2 separate regions of the Homo sapiens genome follow, and region 1 is linked to region 2. Evidence: fine-mapped expression QTL. A gene starts in region 2. The other region holds a variant in brackets. All regions are shown on one strand. Distances are from middle to middle.

Evidence for each region. PIP is the estimated chance that this variant, and not a neighbour inherited with it, causes the effect. A credible set is the group of variants that fine-mapping cannot tell apart.
Region 1: its variant is the best candidate, but not a certain one, in a credible set for the expression of NUDT12 in aorta (GTEx, PIP 0.75).

What each region holds. Positions count from the first base shown.
Region 1 is chr5:103,523,703-103,533,993 of GRCh38, forward strand. It overlaps LINC02115 (long intergenic non-protein coding RNA 2115), which reads right to left. Exons shown (of 5, transcript NR_104670.1): 3 at 6,615-6,706; 4 at 6,002-6,092; 5 at 4,732-4,759. It also overlaps the pseudogene PDZPH1P. Among named protein-coding and RNA genes, the nearest start is that of LINC02115, 13 kb to the right of the region's middle. The variant T/G (reference allele first, on the strand shown) is at 4,124.
Region 2 is chr5:103,557,263-103,567,553 of GRCh38, forward strand. NUDT12 (nudix hydrolase 12) reads right to left here and starts at 5,527. Exons shown (of 7, transcript NM_031438.4): 1 at 5,441-5,527; 2 at 2,781-2,992; 3 at 1,617-2,206. The coding sequence starts at 2,986. RefSeq lists enhancers at 4,767-5,299, 5,300-5,830.

The DNA of each region.
Region 1 (10,291 bases), 34 kb before region 2:
ATCTAGTTGATTCCTAAACGCACACACATGGTGGAAGGAACTACACAAATATTACAGTGAACACTCATGTCAGGGACTCCGAATCTGAGGCACATGCATGGATGTTAAGGGGTTAGAGGATCGCTTTTCAAAATGTAAGTGTAAGTTTGTGCCTATATCAATTTTATAATTTTCTGGTAAAAACAGTCCAAAAGTATCCCAGTTTCTCAAAGCAATACACTCCCTGAAAAAATTACCCAGTTCTAGCCTGAGATATCAGTAATATGAAGACAATAATGTTGAATAAAGTATAAAGATATTCATAGTTCTAGGAGAGTTAAATCTATGCAAACATTTATAGATTCAAATATTTTGTATTAATATTATAACTGCTGAACTATGTTCCTGGTTTTGTTGTTGTTGTTGTTGTTGTTTGTTTTGGTATGTGAACTATTCAAAGAAATCTGATGTGACTTCCCTGCATTTATTTTTGCATTCAATAAATATTTGAGCACCTATACTACAGGACAGGTACTATCTAATTTTATGAATATAGCAATGATCAAAACAGGAAAAATCCATGCCCTCCTGGAACTTATATTCTAGTGAAAGAAGACAGAACAAAACAAAAATAAACCAGTAAAATATATAGCAGATTAGAAGGCAAAAAGTGCTATGTATAAATGGAAAAAGGATAGCGTTTGCCTGGGCTGTAATGAAGATGGTTCAGTTTGCAATTTTAAATGGAGTGGTCTGAGAAGACCTTCCTGAGAACATGCTGTGTGAGCAAAAATCTAAAGGAGATGAGGAGATGAGAATGAACCATGTAGACATATAGGGGAAGACTGGTCCAAGTAGTGGGAGCAGTCCATGCAAAGGGCCTGATGTGGATCTGGGCTGGAAGGTTCTAGGAAGTAAGTCAATATGGCTGGAAGAGTGATCAAGGAAAAGGATACAGGGAGAGAGTTGTAGGAATAGCCTTTTGATGAATCAGTAACACAGGGAACCAGTAGCTGGAATTGTTTACCAAATGGGACAGTTTCAAACTCTGATGTGTAATATCAGCTTTGAGAGAATTCTGACTTGAATTATTGATTTTCTTAAGAAATGTTTCCCGCTGGGAGAGGTAGGACAGGGAGGAACATGCCTCTGGGGGAAGGAGAGTCAACTTGGGAGATATATTCATCCAGGTGAGCATGTGTTTCCTTTGGGAGGCACAGTTGTTCTTACTGCAGGTTCCCTTGCAGTTCCAAATAACTATAGACTGAAGTCAGTGTTGGGATTAATGTCATTGATGCTGATTTCTGGATGGATGTTGGCACCAGGAAGCAGTCCCCATGACTGATGGTCCTTGCTTTAGGGTGTTCATATCAAGCAGATGACCATAGAGTTTTCATACTGTTTTAGGGCATTTACTCTCTACAAAACAAATTTCACATTTTATTCTAACAGTTATGTAATTGATTATGCTTTTTGTATTTTATTTCTACTTCTAAATTTTACTAATTTCATTCAAAAATCTAGAGACAGAACTACAAAGAAAATATACCTTCTCCTTTAAGTTTCATCATTCCAAATATAATTTCTGAAGCTATTAGGATTATTACCAGCAGTTTAGAAGACAGTTTTTACTCATTCAAAATGTATTTTAATTTACAATATGGAATAATGCTAACATTAAATATAAAATAATTTGGACTCATTTAAAAAAACAAGGGCCTTCTATGAAGTGACAAAAATGATATAGTGCTGATTTGAGATTGAAAGCAGACAGGCAGAATTATGTACTTAGGAAAGAACTTCCATCTTGGCCCTACTTGAGGTCTGGAGAGCTTCTGGGTTCTATCAACAATTTGGTCCAAGTAATGCACAAGGGAGGTCAGAGGTCTGCTGGAGGTCAGAGGCCCCATGGTGGCTCAGTGAGGATTAGGCAAGGTCGTTTCTGTTTTTTGTCCTTTGTTGTAATTACTATTCCACATGGCCTTCCAAGACATACATACAATGCCTCTGTAACACCACAGCAAGATTTAAAAATATATTTTATTACAAACATATTCTTCCTATTCTTCTGAACATGCTTAGCTTGCAAGAAGGAAAGAAATGGTGGATTATTTAAGAGTGGCAAAGACTAACATTTCCTACAAAATTGATTTGGCAATATATCAACCTTTTAAAGAGAAATTGATTTTTTTTTTTTTTACATTAAACTGCAGGCTTGAAGATGCACTATTTATGGGTGGAGTGGGTGATAATGTAAAGAAACAGACTGATATATGCTTGCCCGTGTTCATCTAACTCTAAAATATATAATATATCTTTAGCAATAAAGAAAACATCCCAAGCAATTTTAAAAAAGCCCTCATCTTAAGACTTTCCAAAGCTAAAATATATAAAAAATAATGAAAGTTAATGATTCTGTATAGCCCACCATACCTTTCAAAGCTTGCTTCTGAGGTGGCATCAACGTGTGTATTTGGTAACAGTAATTTTCCTTTGAGTCATTTTTGTTCTCATCCTCTTCAGTATTTGGCCCTGTTGATGCAATCCTTTGGCACTGTGCTGGCTCCTGTTTAAAACTAGTTAGTCCAAGGTTTTCTTTATCTTGGTTACCATGTAGGTCCACATCATTGGTCAGTGTTTTTTCAATAAGAAACAGATTATCTGAAGCACACACTGCACAGTTGGACTCAGCAGTGTTTGCTGAAAAATGCATTTGAAAACAGACTTTGTCACGATTCTCATTTGACAGGTCTTCAAAATCTCTGTGGTATGCATTATTCACCACGGGTATTATCTGGCATTTGTCTTTTTCAACATTTTCCAGAGAGCTGGGTGACTCTTTACGGTTTTTCATTCCCATGGGACAATTAGAAACAACTAGTTTCTTTATCATCTTGAATAATCAATTTTTGCTCTAACTCATCAGTTATGAAGGTCATAACTAGTGCTTTTGTTTTGGTCGGGGCTGCTATCTCTGGATGACTTGCTGTGACTCTGTTTGGTTCCATTCCACAGTGCTGTGGCTAATACCGTTGCGTGGGCTCTTAGCTGCTAGGCTGCTGCCAGAAGCAGGCCTGAGATTAAGACACAGTGTAATCTTCCTTTCCAGTAGTTGCTGTGCTTTAGCATGAGAGTCACTATGTAAAATGGCTTTGTTAAAGTCTCTGTCAGTCACATTAATCTGCTCCTTCTCATAATCTATCACACACTCAGCACAATGATTAAAAGAAAATGTACTCTCAGGGTTTTCCTTAGGTTTCAAATGTCTGGTGGCCCAGTGAGGTGGGCTGAATGAGGTGCAAGACTGCAGAGAAGTTTGAGTGGGAGGGAAAGATACAGAATTTGAGTTCTCACAGCATTCTGCAGGTGGAGTCTTGCTTCCTTTGCAGTAGATGTTGGCTACCTTTGCTTCTGTGAGCTACATACTCACAGAAGATGAAGAACTAAAGGTGAAGTTTTTGCCATCTTGAGTGGAAAGATGTCAGTAATGGTACTTGGCAAATAATTTATTCCTTCTGTGCTTTGCTGTACATGTGAGTCTGATGTGATATTTCCTGGGATATCAAAGTTGATTTTTCTCTCTTTTTCCACATCCTTAGAATCCTCGAAAGGCATTTTACTTAAATCTGCAGTACTTAAACTTGTGGTCTTTTGGGTATTATGTGAAGTAGGAAGAATTTTTTTGAGAAGAGTCTTAGACTCAGAGAAATGTTTCTTTCTGGGGGTGTTCTGACTAATTTTAAAGACCTTCTGCCGAGAGATAGCAGATTCTACCTCACAGTCTTCTAAGACTGTAGATAGTGTGTCAGGCTTATTTTTCTTTCTCTCCAGAGTCGAGGTTAGATAAATCACCACTGTATCAAAATTCTTCTCCTTCTCGACAGCACACATGCCAGGAGAAGAGACACACAAACAATCTCAACTCTGATGCTTGTTTTCAAGCTGCCACATTTCAGGATACCTAATACCAGACTGTGAGGGAGACCTGAAAGTTTCTTTAGTGGTGTGATTGGAGGAAATGTTTCTGTATTTAGTTACTTTTTTCCTTTCTTTTAGGATGAGTTATATTAATTAATATATTCTGTGTCTTAGTCATGTAGTTGACTTTAATTTCTTTTCTTTCAATGGTTACTTTCAGCAAGGG[T/G]CTGTCGGTTCTGGCAATTTCTCCTTCATGTTTAGACAGCACCTCAGGTTTTAGTTCTTCCACCAATATATTCTTATGTTTAGGAAAGCAGCTCCTAGAAGGGTAGCATCTCTGAATGTGTCTGATAGAGCAACGCTGGCAACATTTTGGATGTCTCTTTTTTTGTTGGGAACTGTATTCCTGGTTTACAGACAAAGTTTTTCTTGATTTCTATTTGCACATTGAAATCCCCACGTTTCACTTCTGTAATAAATTTGCCTTTTGCTGGCTTAAAGTCTTCTACTGTGCCTAGGAGATTCTGTAATGTAATGTTTTCTGATAATGATTCTCCATAGTCATTAAATGTGATCATAGGTAAGACTTTCTCCAGTTGATGAGAGACAGCCAAAGGAGGATCATCATTTCCCTTCTTCCTATGTATTTTGCTGTCACATGGATGCTGTTTCTTATCTTTAGGAAGAAAAGAAGAATTCTGCTTTTCATTCACAGAAGCAGACATACCCTCATCTCCATTTTCCTTAGATTTCCCTAATGTCCCAGTCTGATGAAACACAGGCTCCAAGGTGTCTCCTTTGACTTCCTTTTCAAGAACTTTTATATTTTCTTGGCATGCTCAGCCAGCAGGCTGAGATACACCTAAAGAGGAAGCAAAAAAATAAAAATTGGAAAGGTTTACGTGTTCATTTAGAGAACAGATGTTCCAATTTCTAGAATAAAATGCAATGCAAATCCTTTGTAAGTATTTTGGGTATCGGTTTTCATTCATTTATAGCATGTCAAAATGTTTTTCACAAAAGTTCATTTATAATAAATACATCACTTTAAATCAACCAATTCTCTTAGAGTGTAGAAATATCACCAGTAGTTTTATGAAGTAAGAATTTAATTAAGCTGTACTCTAAAACAGCAACTTGCAAAAGTGGGTGAAATGAAAATTTCACAAGAAACATATGCAACTAAATTTTAAGTGCAACTCTTGAAAAAGAACAGCTTGCTATATGATCAGGTATTTGAACATGGCATTATACTACAGGCTAAGTCAAGCTCAATACAATTTGAGATGGTACTACAAATGAAGATGTGGGTAAAAAGAATGGAAGAAACATAAGTATGCTTTTAGACAGACTTTCAAACATGTCCAGTAGTATCCTTTGCCCTGGGCTTTTTATAGAATAGGTTCACAAACTCAAAGTCTGTGGCATTTAAACAGGTAACATAAACAAGTGAAGCAGGCTGGGTATACATATTCTCTGCTAGTCAGCTCCAGCCACGTGAAAAGGTGTCCTGGTGTTACTGGATCATCTCATTTTTCCAGAAGAGAACTAGAATCTGGATTTTTTCCTATACTGTAAAATTTCTTAATTTCTAAGGATTAGTTCAAAAATTTAAAACAACAACCCTCTATAGGTGGAGGCCAGTATACTTAGGGACCAGCTTTTGCCCAAGAACTACCAGCTTGCAACCTGCACTCCTCTGTTTTATATTAAAATACATTCCTATGAGAAGCTTGTGAACCTGAGCATGAGGCACCAGAGCTTGTGTAAAAAACAGTGGACAAAAATATCTCAAATTCTATTTTAAACTACATCTGAGATTATTTGTTAAGAAAGAAGAATAGGCAACAAGTGAATACTTATATCATAAAGATTGATGAACCAGGTGTCAAAAAGGACATTTTTAAAAAGTTAAGTTTAAAATTGGAATGGATTATTTATACATTTATTTTAAATGTTTTTAACTTAAAATGATTTTTATTTATACTTATAAATTTTTACATAAAATGCTTATAATTATATAAATACTTATATAGAGAATAAATTCTCTTCAACAGGAAAAAGAACAGCATCGAGCATACTGAGATCACTTGAGGAGTCTAACCATTCCCATTTGCCTCTCTTCTAGCCTGTAGGAAGGTCTCTCTTGTCAGGTACTGAAACAGTTTCCAGTGGGCCTGGTCACAATCTGAGCTCTGTAATGTGGAAGTCATAAGAGAAAAGACATGGAGACCTATCTCTCTAAAGGCCATTTACAATAGACCATGGACACAATAACAGTTTATAGACTGATGGACTGCCTTCCAGAACTGGACTTTATTCTTTAAATAACATCTTCATGCCAAGAGCCATTCTGTTTATACCCCTTTCAATTTTATAATTTTATATTTTATAGCCCCTTTGAATTGACTACATTTTAATTTCTGCAAAAAGGGATATAGAGCAGAGAAAGTTACATAATAATGCATTGATAACAGATTCTAAGAATAATGGGTCCTAATAGTCCATATCTGAATATTTTTATTTAGATTTTTATTAGTTATAATACATATCATTAATGCAGAAGTATATAAATAGTAACTATAGACCAAGCTTCAAAATCATTTTATATGTTTTTATCTTCCTAGTTTTATAGACAGTCCTGTGATAAAGAAGAAAGTACATAAACTAAGCAGTTCATTTTTTACATACTTAGAAAATCATTGAATTGGACTTACATACTGTGGTATTCAAGATTTCCCATTTTTTACAGCCTTTTCTTCTTTTCCTCATCATTTTGGGGAGTTGTGGGTCTTCAGTTTTCACTGCCCTTTGAAAACAGCAAATAAATTTGAAATTATTTTCCCATCAGAATTTAGGTTTAGTCAAATTACTGAGTAACTCAACTCACTTGCCAACTTGATAGCATGGGTATCTGTCTGTGGTATCCCCACATGCTTTTCCTTTAAATATATTTTATTGTTGTAATTACATTAACCTTTTTTGTTTAGTTCCATCTCAACTATTTAGTGCATTGTTAGATATATATGTACATGTGCATATAAATGAATATTCAAACATATAGATATGTAAAACATATACACATATATTCGTATTTGTAGACATTTAGGATGCAAGTTGATGCATATTGTTTAATTATTTTTATGTTTCATTGTTTCCTATATTAATAGAAACACACAATTTTTTGTAAAGTTAGCCTAAATCCAATATTATGAAATTTGTAGCCCTGCTAAAAATTAAGTGGGGTAGGGAGATGGTTTGCCTTCATTACACTGTCATTATATATAACCATATTTAAATATTATGACTGAGTAAACATATTGGTAGAGTTGGTAATTCATTGTAGAAGACCAAATTCTTTACCTTAACTGTGAAAGAAAGGGTTATATTCTCTGTTGATGATGTCTTAACTAATAGAAGATGTTGGAGAAGGCATCTGCGGGAAGGCCATCTCCTAATTTCCCAATTATCACCTCAAGCAGGCACCTGCCTGTGCTCAGAGCTAAGCCTGATTCTAATTGCTTTACTTTAAAAGAATTAATCTGTCTGTAAAGATGAAAAGGAAATAGTTTCCCATGGAGGCAGTTTGCTTTAGGTGTATTTGGCCAGGCTGTGTCTTTGGACACCTCAGTCAAAAAGCTTGACTCTTATTTGTTTTATGTAAAATCAGGTTGCTTTGCGGCTAGTTTTGGCAAAAATTTATTAAAATTCTTCATAACTCATCTCTCTCCTCCAAGTCATAATATCTGTTGATTTAAAATACTTTTTATTCCATAGCCTCTCCAAATCTCTTAATTTTCTGAAAATTCTGCTTCCCTAGGCTGCCTTTCTTATATAGAGCAATTGATACTCTCTTGGCATCTTTCAATTAACCTGTCTACATTCTCCTGCAATAAGCAAAACTACATTCCTGTGGCTGATGAGGTGAGCAGTAATCCACTCTTCTTAGAAGGCCAATGTGGGGATTGGGTTGCGCAGAGGATTACAAATGCACAATTTAATATCTTTCTTTTTTTATCCCTGTCTTACACATATTGGGTTTTCTAATTTAAAAACGCTTCAAAGGCATTTGACTAGGTATAGATAGTATAGAAAAACGTATGGAGGTTACTCAAAAAATTTAAAAAAAACACTACCATAGGATCCAGTAATTCAACTACTGAGTATGTATCCAAAGGAAATGAAATAAGTATTTCAAAGAGATATCTGCACTCCCATGTTTTATTGTATAGCTATCACAAGTCAAGATATGGAATCAACGTAAGTGTCTAACAACAAATGGAGAAAGAAAATGTGGTATATATACATAATGGAATATTATTCAGCCATAACAAATGGAATCCTGCTATTTGTGACTACATGGATAAACCTGGAGGACGTCATGTTAAATGAAATAAGCCAGACACAGAAGGACAAATACCATGTGATCTCATTCATATGTGGAATCTTTAAAAAAAAAAAGTTGATATAATAGAAGCAGAGAGTAGAACAGTGGTTATCAGAGATTGGGGAGAAGAAGGGGTTAGGAAGGTGGGGAGCAGTTGGTCAACGGGTTCAAAGTCTCAATTAGATTGAACCAATGAATTCTGGTGTTCTGTTGCACACTAGGGTGACTGTGGTTAACAGGAAAACATTGCATATTGCAAAACAGCTAGAAGAGAGGCTTTTTGAATGTTCTCACCACAAAGAAATGATAAATGCATGATGTAATGGACACACTAACTACCTTGATTGGATCATTACACAACATAGCTATGTACTGAAATATTAAATTGTACCTTATAAATTTGTACAATTACAGGGCCAAATAAATAAATACTTTTTTTAAAAGCACATGACTAGGTTAGTGATTATTTCTCAATGGTTTCACATAGTTTAAACAGAAAAATGTAGCCTGCTGCACTGAGTTTAGTTGAGAGCACTTGACTTTGACTCAGAATATCTGGGTCTGTACCATGGCTCTGCTGCTCACTCAGCAGGTTGTGTCATATCTGTGAGGCTGAATTTCCTTTACCTCTAAGATAGAAATGCTAACAAAATTTAACTTACAAAGTTGTCTTGAATAAACACAACTGAAAACATTATCAATGGTTCCAGTGAAATGGTACTTGCTATTAACCTCCGTTACAGTATATATACATAACAATTAAAATATACCCTTAATTAGAGCTGAGCAGTGGCTGGCTTTGGGAGACTTGCCATCTTATCAGAGCTGCAGGTGAGGGCTTCAATAAAGCTGACCAAACCATACATTATTTTTGCGCTAGAATGTCTAGAAGTTTTCAAGATTATCTCATCCAAAGCTCTCAATTCGGTATGTGAAAAACTGGGACCCAGACCATCCGTGCTTCCTGAATCTCACTAATGGTGGCAAACCACTAATTAAGTAAGCTCTCTCTTTGAGCAGACACACGTGGTATAGATGCCTTGGCAATATGGTTAGGCTTTGTCAAATTCCCCACCCAAATCTCATTTTGAATTGTAATCCCCAGATGTTGAAGGAGAGACCTGGTGGTAGGTGATTGGATCATGGCAGAGGGGGGCGCTGTTGTGGGAAGCCAGGAACCCCAAATGGAGGGACCGGCTGAAGCCATGGCAGAAGAACATAAATTGTGAAGATTTCATGGACATTTATTAGTTCCCCAAAATTAATACTTTTATAATTTCTTATGCCTGTCTTTACTGCAATCTCTGAACATAAATTGTGAAGATTTCATGGACACTTTTCACTTCCCCAATCAATACCCTTGTGATTTCTTATGCCTGTCTTTACTTTAATCTCTTAATCCTGTCATTTTTGTAAGCTGAGGAGGATGTATGTCGCCTCAGGACCCTGTGATGATTGCGTTAACTGCACAAATTGTTTGTAAAGCATGTGTGTTTGAACAATATGAAATCTGGGCACCTTGAAAAAAGAACAGGATAACAGCAATGTTCAGGGAACAAGAGAGATAACCTTAAACTCTGACCGCCGGTGAGCCGGGTGGAACAGAGCCATATTTCTCTTCTTTCAAAAGCAAATGGGAGAAATATCGCTGAATTCTTTTTCTCAGCAAGGACATCCCTGAGAAAGAGAATGCATCCCTGAGGGTAGACCTCTAAAATGGCCCCCTTGGGTGCGGCCGTCTTCTATGGTTGAAACTGTAGGGATGAAATAAGCCCCAGTCTCCCATAGCACTCCCAGGCTTATTAGGATGAGGAAATTCCCGCCTAATAAATTTTGGTCAGACCAGTTGTCTGCTTCAAACCCTGTCTCCTGATAAGATGTTATCAATGACAATGCGTGCCTGAAACTTCATTAACAATTTTAATTTCGCCCCGGTCCTGTGGTCCTGTGATCTTGCCCTGCCTCCATTTGCCTCATGATATCTTATTACCTTGTGAAGCATGTGAT
Region 2 (10,291 bases):
CTTTTTGATCTTAAAATGATATATATATATATATATATATATGTCTAAAGAAAATAAATTTTCTTAAAAAAGTTTGATGATTTCTCCACAGGTGTGGAGAATAAAACATACCACACCAGACTTTGAGGAGGAGATATTTAAGCAGTCTCTGGAAGGACCTCTATCACCTAAGGGAAGGTGGTCACTGACAAGTGACCTATTCCTAACTTCCCAGTAACTCATCAGTCTACCATAATCTGGTTTCTGTTCGTTTCACTCCACTGACGTTTCTCTTGTCAAGTTCATCAATAGCTTCATATTACCAAAGACAAAGATGCTTTAAAAAACAAAACAAAACAAAAAAACCACTTTGCCTTCATCTTACTCAAGTTCATAACAGCATTCAATACATTTGACCACTCCCTCCTGGAAATACTCTGCTGTCTTGGTTTCCCTGAGGCCTCTTGCTCTCTTCCTACCTCATGGCCACACTGTTTCCAACTCCTTTGATGGCTCTCCTGCTTGCAGCTTACCTTTAAATTTAGGGGGATTCAGGTCTTATTCTGAGTTTTTCTTGCTTCCTCTCAACTCTCCAAGTAATCTCAGTAGTTTTTTGGGATTTAAGTATCTGTGTGTTGATGACTGCCATATGGGTATTTCCAGTTCAGACATCTGATTGTAATGTCCATTTCTAAAACTTAGTATGCCCAAAAGTAAACTCTTGATTTTTTTAATCCAAGTCTGTCCTGCTTTCCTTGCTCTAACCATCATCCTATATTATTGAGAAATGGTATCACTATATACCAAATTATTAAAGTCTCTAGCCTAGCAGTCATTCTTAATCTTTTCCTTCATTATTATATATCCCATATCCAATTCAATAGCAAAGACCAGTGATTTTCTCTCCAAACTTTATCTTGCATATACCCTCTTTCCTCCATTTCTACTATCAGTACCTTAATTCATGCCATATTACCACCATCTCTCACTTATAAGGGTCTCAACCTACAGATCAAGCCCTATCCCTTCTACCTCGAGAATACCTCAGATTCTCCCTTTGTCTCCATCTCCACTGCCTCCATTCTAACTCAAGCCATTGCAATCTCTTACTTGGGCACCTGTAATACTCAATTCCCTCTTAACAAGACTCCCAACTTTCACACTTACTTACTTACATGTGTACAATTTATGCTCTATGATGCAGCCAGTGTGCAGTGTCTTTTTTAAAAAAATATTTTAAACACAGGTTAGGTTACATTTAAATGGCTTTAGAATCAAACCCCAATTTCTTACCATGCCATAAAAAGCCCCATCAACAGAATACAAAACAAAACAGTCAAAGTCTTTGCCATCATGTTCTACGTGTAGCAGGAACTAAGAATTATTCAATGAAGAATCAAATGAGATCATCATGCACCAGGGTTAATTCTCAGGAAATCAGTCTGGGCTGATTAGAACTACTAACTGCCCAGGAGAGTAGTCCCCTAGGGTGAGAACTTTAAGAAGTTTCTGATGAAGACAGTCTAATTTCACTGCTTACTGGAAAAAGAGTGCCCCTGGAAAGTGCAAATACATACAACTCCAACTCAAGTCTAAAAACCAGATTTTACCAATGAAAAGCAGCATTCATTTCTTACCAGCTTCTTTTTCTTTCAATTGCAGAAGGGCTGGCATAGGAGGATGAAGAAAGTAACAATTTTCATGTCTTTGCTTGAATTCTTCAGCAGCAATAGGATCTATACCTAGAGCAAACCAGGCAACCAATCCATCTTCCTCCTCTCTCGGGACTTCACCAGCATAATTAAGTAGTTTGTCTTTTATTTCAAGTTCTACTCCAAGAAAAATCAAGGTGATCTTCTCAGGCTGGGCCAAATAATCCTTTATATCTGTGTAGTTCAGCTGACAAAGCCTAACTTCTGGCTGTTGGAAACTTTCTTTATTGCCACCTAGAGTAACCAAGGGATTTAAATCTGAGAAAAGAATAAAAACTGTGGCTGGATGGCTTTCTTTAGCTAGCAGCCAGTCAGAATTATTTCTCTTTTCACTTTTCCGGTCCAGTAGTGTTTTGCTAAAATAATTTTCACATTCTTCCACTTCATTCGTTAGGAACCAAGGCTTCTTCCCACCTTTAGCAGTAGCTAGTAAATTAGCTATATGCTTATAACCCCAAAATACAGCAATGTCCAGTGCAGTCTGCCTTGATTTATTGACAATTGATCTGTCACACCTATAGATGGAAGAAAAAATTGGGGAGAAAAAGTAAAATAGGAAGTAAACACTTTCTCCGTATTTATTTCACTAAAATATTTCCAGATACATATTAAAGTCCTTCTTTTTAATGATTACATAGATTTTTTTTCTTTTGTTACATAGTTTACTATTGGGAAGGTTAAAAGAACAATCATAAATGACAAAAAGTTAAGAGACAGTGGATACTTACACTTTCTGGATAATTACTCACAAAATAAAACAGTATTAAGCTTTATGCACTATAAAGAGATACCAAAATTCTACAAGAAGTCCTTGGTAGTCATAGTGAGATCTGCATTTTCTATTTGGGAGGAAAATTTATAATTAGACTCCTCATAAATTTGCTTTGCTATAAAGAAATAATTTCTCAATGAAAAAGGTTACAAAGTTTTAAGTTAGAAAAATTGTGCTACATTTTTACATAAATTAGCCAATGAGTTATTTAGTAGTTCAACAATATAAATATGGAAACAAGCAAAATTTTAAAGTAAATATGTAACAAAGAAATTAAACCACAAACCCTTTCAGGTGGTACAGCCTAAAATGTTTACCCTTTCTCAAGCAGAAATTGGACTATCTCTGGGTGCCCATTCCTTGCCGCATACATTAAAGCAGTCCAGCCATTTTCAGAAGTTTCATTGAGAAGAGATGGAGAATGACTGAGTATTCCTGTTAACTTGGCAATATCTCCTTCAGCAGCTGAACAGTGAAACTGAGTAACTATTTCTTGCTTCAGACTTCTTTTTACAGAAGACATTTCTTCCTTAAAAGAAGGAAAATCAGGGGAAAAAGCTTATTTGCAACTGCTTTTTTATCAATGAACAATATTGATAAATAGCAATAGAATAATAGCAATGGTTTCCAAGGCAACATACTATTCAACAGGCAATCCTTAAACAGCATACATTTCAATTTCAAAATGTTATCAGTTTAGAATTATAAAATGCAACGCAATTTATATGCCCATGGGAGTTACACAAAATAATGAATAAAGAGCTCTGACAGTACAGACGAGGGGGCCATATCCTTGGGAGGGGGAACCAGGTAACATATTACATAAGGAGGAGGTATTTAGGGTAGACCAGAGGGGACTTCACGATGGGTGGGGACATGAGGGGGAGAGCATTAAAACAGATGGAAGTAAAGGCAGAGACTTTATAAGTTTCACAGGAAAACAGTTTATTGTTTGACCTTGCACAATTAATTCTGTAATCCATCTAGGATCTATTTTTGTTCATGGCATGAGGTAGGGGTCAAGATACTTTTTTACCCAATGCATAATCCATATTACTCCGTATTATTCTTGAAATTACCATCTTTGTCCTACTACACTGAGACAAATATTGTCACAAATCAGATGATCATATATTTTTGGTTCTATTATTGGACAGTTCTGTTGGTCACTTTGTTGTCCTTGAATCAGAGCAGCTTTTAAAACTCATTAACTTTATCTGCTTTGTCACCTTTTTGTTTCGGTGGGGTAAACCCTGAAATAATTGTTCCATACCTCTTAAATATTGCCTAATCATGGACTGCAGATGATAGAGCACACACTGAGCTTTTTTTGTCTTTTTTTTTTTTTGGCGGCGGGGGATGGTGAAAATGGTTCATGATTCAACTGTCTGTGAACTTCTCAAAGTATTTTTTTTTAAGGTATAATTCTTCTTTCTATGAAATGCTATTAAGAAAAGATTTGGGATTCTAACAACATTTCTATCATTCTAAGCAATAAGATTTTTAAGCTAAAAAGACAGAAAGGTTATAGCCCATAGTTTTTGATAGCTGCTGTCTCCTGGGTTCTGAAAGGGCGATCTGGCTGATGAATTGCATAGCAGGAATAGTATGAACAAAATTTAGGGAAAACAAGGAGTAAAGATTAATTGTCTCATTTTGGAGCTGTTCACCTTTCCTATTTGTGTCTTTCTGCTACTTATAAATAGGTTAAAACTGCTCACAGTCATGGAAACACTTGGATGAAACCTAACAGTGGAAATCTGTTTAGAAATTAAATTACCAGAAGTAATATCTACATGACAGAATAATTTTTGATTTATTCTAGAATTTACTTCGCTGTTCCTTTCATATTGAAATTTCTACATACGTTAAAAATACTATGCATAACAAAAGCTACAAATTTTCAGGACTTTATTTTGAAGCACTGCTGTACAGCTCCTGTACTGATCTCCCTTCCAAATTGTCTTTCTCTTAAGTTTATTTTCCAAAAACCCATATTATAGTTTTTTCAGCTAGGTTTAGTTTGAATAATATTTCACTGTCTCATGTTCTGGGGTCACCGTCACTCCCTCACATTCTCACAGGCCGCGCCAGGTAACTGCAAAATTGTCCTTCAAAAATACAGCGTCATTCACTACCTCCAGGGCAATGCTTATGCATATGCTATTCTGTGGAGATGGGAAGTGGAAAGTGTACACTTTTCCCTCTAGCTTTCTCAGCAGAAAAGCCATCTAGAAATAGTACCATTATTCATTCCAGAGAAGCACATAAAGTCTAACACCCAATTCTACTGTTTGATTTACTTTTTCAATTCTCATTGACAGGTTATAGAAGGTAAAGATTTGAAGGCAGAATAAAGTGCTGCCCTTGTTTTCCAAGAAGCTCAAGGACTATTCCGAGAAATCATTTAAAAGAATATTAGATGTAAAGGGACATAAATTTTTAACAAACCAACATCCACTTTTACTGACATGTAACCCGGGGCCCATGACTTCCGCATGCTCACACAGACCGAATGGGACAGGACAGGACCTTAAATATCGCTCTGTCACTGAAATCACTGACCATCAATTAACGAATTTCATCCACTCCCTGGGCACTCAAGACCAATTAAGTGCCACCCGTGCACGGTCTCTGAAAATGGTAAAATGCCTTAAGATATTTTACTTTCTTGCCACTACTGTGAGATTCCTTCTTTCGAGGTGAAATCACACCCTAAGTAGCGCTTCCTTTTCCCCATCTCAGCTTGGGCAGGAAACTCTACGACCTCAGTACCGCCGCACCTCCGCCCTGTCGCGGGAGCCCCTGCAAATGCGTCCGTGGCTCCCGCGCCTGCGCCCACCAAACCACTACGAGGCTCCGCCACACAACTCAGCAGGGCCACGCAGGGCAGCGCGGGAACCAAAGAGCCCAGGGAAGTGGTCACCGCCCCCAGAGGAGGCAATGAGACGACTAACTCCCCACTGCTTCTACTAACCCAAAGGTGACCACAGTAGAGGCAACCAGGATGCAGTCCAAAGATTGGGATATCCCACTCGCTTTTCCTGGAGCCGGATGCAGTCTTCCCGACTTCCGGTGGAGATCCGGGGGTGGGGGGGGGGCGGGAGGGGGGCCCCCGCGGTTTTATGGGAGATGTAGTTTGAAGCCCACAGGTTGTGCGCAAGGGAGAAGGGGTGGAGATTGGGGGTGGAAGTGTTTGGGAGCCGGCGCGGGAGAGATCGCGGTCTAAAGGATTGGAGCTGAATGAAGGGCTGAAAATCCTTCTCCTGAGACTGTGATGTGTAGATAGAACGTGGTGCAGGCGATCGGAAAACTGTAGGCCTAAGGAAACGATTTTAAATTTTCCAGCGTCTCCCACCCAACTCCTAGCCCTCTCTCCAATACAGTCCAATGCAATTGAGTGCTCAAAGCATTCTTTCCTGTTAAATAATCCTGGACTATTGACTAGACCAAGTCACTCTTAAACGAGATATTCGGCCTCTGTAACACCTTAATCATTCACCCCATGGGAAAACTGGTATCATATACTGACGCCTAACTTATTCAGTAGTCCTTTAAAAAGTATGTATCAAGCGCGCAAAACACCTCCTTGGGTTGTGAGGTGTAAATAGGATAATGTATCCAAAGCTCTTAGGATGTTGTGAAGTGCAGAGTGGGCACCCACAACAAAATTATTGTCGTTATTTTTTATTTCAGTTCCTGTGCTTTTATGCTCCAAAACCTACAGAAGTTATGAGTCCGAGATTACAAAACTAGGTGTTGGCGGTCTTCTAACTTCCAGACCAGGGCTTTTTCCTTTACTAAACTCTCTCCTTGGTAATCAGCAACAGCTACAGGGGTCTCTTACAATTGATCACTGTTTCCCACCCAGATTTTACCCTTGGAAGCTCCTTCTCACTGTGAAGCTGTATGCACCAGTTGACATTGATCATGAGGGCTTCTAACGCCCTGTGCTGCTGTTTTTTTTTTTTTTTTCTTTTTTTTAGATGGGTTCTCACTCTGTCACCCAGGCTGGAGTGCAGTAGTGCGATCTTGGCTCACTGCAACCTCCGCCTCCCGGGGTTTCAAGTGATTCTCCTGCCTCAGTCTCCCGAGTAGCTGGGATTACAGGTGTGCGCCACCAGGCCCAGCTAATTTTTGTATTTTTAGTAGAGACAGGTTTTTGCCATGTTGGCCAGGCTGGTCTGGAACTCCTGACCTCAGGTGATCCATCCGCCTTGGCCTCCCAAAGTGCTGGGATTACAGGCGCGAGCCACTGCACCCGGCCGCCCTATGCTTCTTTATGTGACTAGTTGTTTTCAGCCTTTAATGATTTCAGTGACCAGACAGGTGGTCAGAAAGGATTAGTTACTTCACTTGGAGTACCCAATCTTTGCATTCAAACATATGTTAGATTAGTATAGTGAACCCTCGTGTATTAATGATCCAGAGTCAACAACTATTAATATATAGTTCTCCCAGTTGTTAGGATTGTTTTGAAGTAAATTCCAGACCCCATATTGTTTTGATGACAAATATTTAAGAGTAAACTTTTTGGAAATATGTATTATATCTAAAATATAAGGGCTTTGAAAAACAACACAACTTCAATATCCCTAGTATTACAAATTTAACAATAATTCTGTAATAACATAAAAGAAACATTCAATATCAAATTTACTCACTTGCCTCAGAAGTTTTATATGTTTTTCAGTTGATTCATCTGAACAAAGTCTCCACATCACATTTGATTTTTAAAAATCTATGGATTCCTTCCTCTTCCCCTTTTTTTCTGGCAGTTTATTTACTAAAGAGTAATGATCATTTGTTCTGTAGAATTTTCCACATTCTGAATTTTGCAGATTTTATTCCTGTGCTGTCCTTTCCCCCTGTATTTCTTGCAAACTGGTAGTTAACTTTATAGAATTACTCAGATTAAAGTTTGATTTTTTTTCACAAAAGACTTTATAGGTGTTACAGTTTACTTTGTATTGAATTACTTCAAGAGGCTTACAACTTCTGGTTGTCTCTCTTTTTTTAATGTTATACTTGATCATTGGGTTCAGATGTTGTCAACCTGATAACATGTATGATAAATAATAATATAAATATTATAAAAATATGGTAAATGTTTATGATAAATATATGACATTGATATATAATTATGATAAATATAATTATATTATTTAAATATTAAATTTATGATAAATATATTATAAATTTTTCCATCAACTTTTCAGCTAATAGTTTTAGCAGCCATTCATGATTATTGCCTGCATCCATCATTTTGTTATGAGTTGCAAATAGTGATATTCTAATTTGATATTCACTCTACATTTACTAACAAATTATTTTATAATAAAGAACTTCATCTAATTAAATATCTATACAGCTTATATGGAAAGATAGGATAAATGTGCGATTTTCACCATTATTTCCTAATCTTCAGAATAATTAGTTAGTTCCCTAATATCCTTCAGGTAAGTATACAAACGTGCCTTGTTTTATTGCACTTTGCTTTACTGTACTTCACAGATAGTACATTTTTTACAAATTGAAGGTTTATGACAACCTTGTGGCAAGCAAGTATATAGGTGCCACTTTTCCAACAACGTGTTCACTTTGTATGTCTATCACATTTTGTAATTCTTGCAATATTTCACACTTTTTCATTATTATATCTGTTATGGTGATCTGTGATCAGTAATCTTTGATGTTACTATTGTAATTGTTTTGGATTGCCACAAACTGCACCCATATAAGTTGGCAAACATAATCAATACACGTTGTGTGTGTTCTCACTGCTCCATCCACTGGCTATTCTTATCTCTCTCCCTCTCCTCAGGCCTCCCTATTCCCTGAGATACAGCAATATTGAAATTAGGCCAATTAATAACCCTACAGTGGCCCCTAAGTGTTCAAGTGAAAGGAAGACGCACACATCTCTCACACATTTTAAATCAGAAGCTGGAAATTATTAAGCTTAGTAAGAAAGGCATGTCAAAAGACAAGACAGGCCAAAAGCAAAGCCCCTTGCACCAAAGAGTTAGCCAAGTTATAAAGGCAAAGGAAAAGTTCTTGAAGGAAATTAAAAGTACTACTCCAGTGAACACATGAATGGTAAGAAAGTGAAACAGCTTTATTGCTGATATGGAGAAGGTTTTAGTGGTCTGGGTGGAAGATTAAACCAGGCATAATATTTCCTTAAGCCAAAGCTTTATCCAGAGCAAAGTCCTAACTCTCTTCAGTTGTATGAAGACCGAGAGAAGTGAGGAAACTGCAGAAGAAAAGTCGGCATCTAGCAGAGGTTGGTTCATGAGGTTTAAGGAAAAAAGCCTCCTTCATGACATAAAAGTGCAAGTTGAAGGAGCAAGTGGCGATGGAGACGCTGCAGCAAGTTACCCAGAAGATCTTGCTAAGAGAATTGATGAAGGCAGCTAAACTAAACAGCAGACTTTGAATGTAGAAAAAAACAGCCACCTATTGGAAGAAGATGCCGCCCATGACATCCATATCAAGAGGTGACAAATCAATGCCTGGCTTCAAAACCTCAAAAGACAGGCAGACTCACTTATTAGGGACTAATGCAACTGGTGACTTGAAGTTGAAGCCAATACTCACAATTTTGAAAATCCTAGGGCCCTTAAGAATTATGGTAAGTCTACCCTGCCTGTGCTCTCTAAATGGAGCAACAAAGCCTGAATGACAGCACATCTGTTTAGAGAGTGGTTTACTGAATAAGCCTACCGTGGCCACCTACTGCTCAGAAGAAAAGTTTCCTTTCAGGGCCAGGCGCGGTGGCTCACACCTGTAATCCCAGCACTTTGGGAGCCCGAGGCGGACGGATCATGAGGTCAAGAGATGAAGACCATCTTGGCTAACACAGTGAAACCCTGTCGCTACTAAAAAAAAAATAAAAAAAGTAGCCGGGCATGGTAGCGGGCACCTGAAGTTGCAGCTACTCAGGAGGCTGAGGCAGGAGAATGAGGCTGAGGCAGGAGAATGGCGCAAACCCAGGAGGCAGAAGTTGCAGTGAGCCAAGAGATCGCACCACTGCACTCCAGCCTGGGTGACAGAGCGAGACTCTGTCTCAGAAAAAAAAAAAAAAAAAAAAAAAAAAAAAGATTCCTTTCAAAATATTACTGTTAATTGATAATGTATCTGGTCACTGAAGGGCTCTGATGGAGATTTACAGGGAAATTAATGTTGTTTTCATACTTGCTGGCACAACATTCTGCAGCCCACAAATCAAGGAGTAATTTTGACTTTCAAGACTTATTATTAAAGAAATACATTTTGTAAGACTATGGCTGTCATATATAGGGATTCCTCTGGTGGATCTGGGCAAAGCAAATTGAAAAGCTTGTGGAAATGATTCACCATTCCAGATGTCATTAAGAACATTTGTGATTCGGGCCATGTGTGGTGGCTCACACCTGTAATCCCAGCACTTTGGGAGGCCGAGATGGGCAGATCACCTAAGGTCAGGAGTTCAAGACCAGCCTGGCCAATATGGTGAAACCCCACCTCTACTAAAATTACAAAAATTAGCCAGGCTTGATGGCGGGTGCCTGTAATCCCAGCTACTAGGGTGGCTGAGGCAGGAGAATCGCTTGAACGCAGGAGAATTGCTTGAACCCAGGAGGCGGAGGTTGCAGTGAGCTGAGAGCACGCCATTACACTCCAGCCTGGGCAACAAGAACAAAACTCCATCTCAAAAAAAAAAAAAGAACATTTGTGATTTGTGGAGGAGATCAAGCTATCAACATGAACAGGAGTTTGGAAGACATTGATTCCAACCCTAATGGATGACTTTGAGTGGTTCAAGACTTCAGTGGAGGAAGTAACT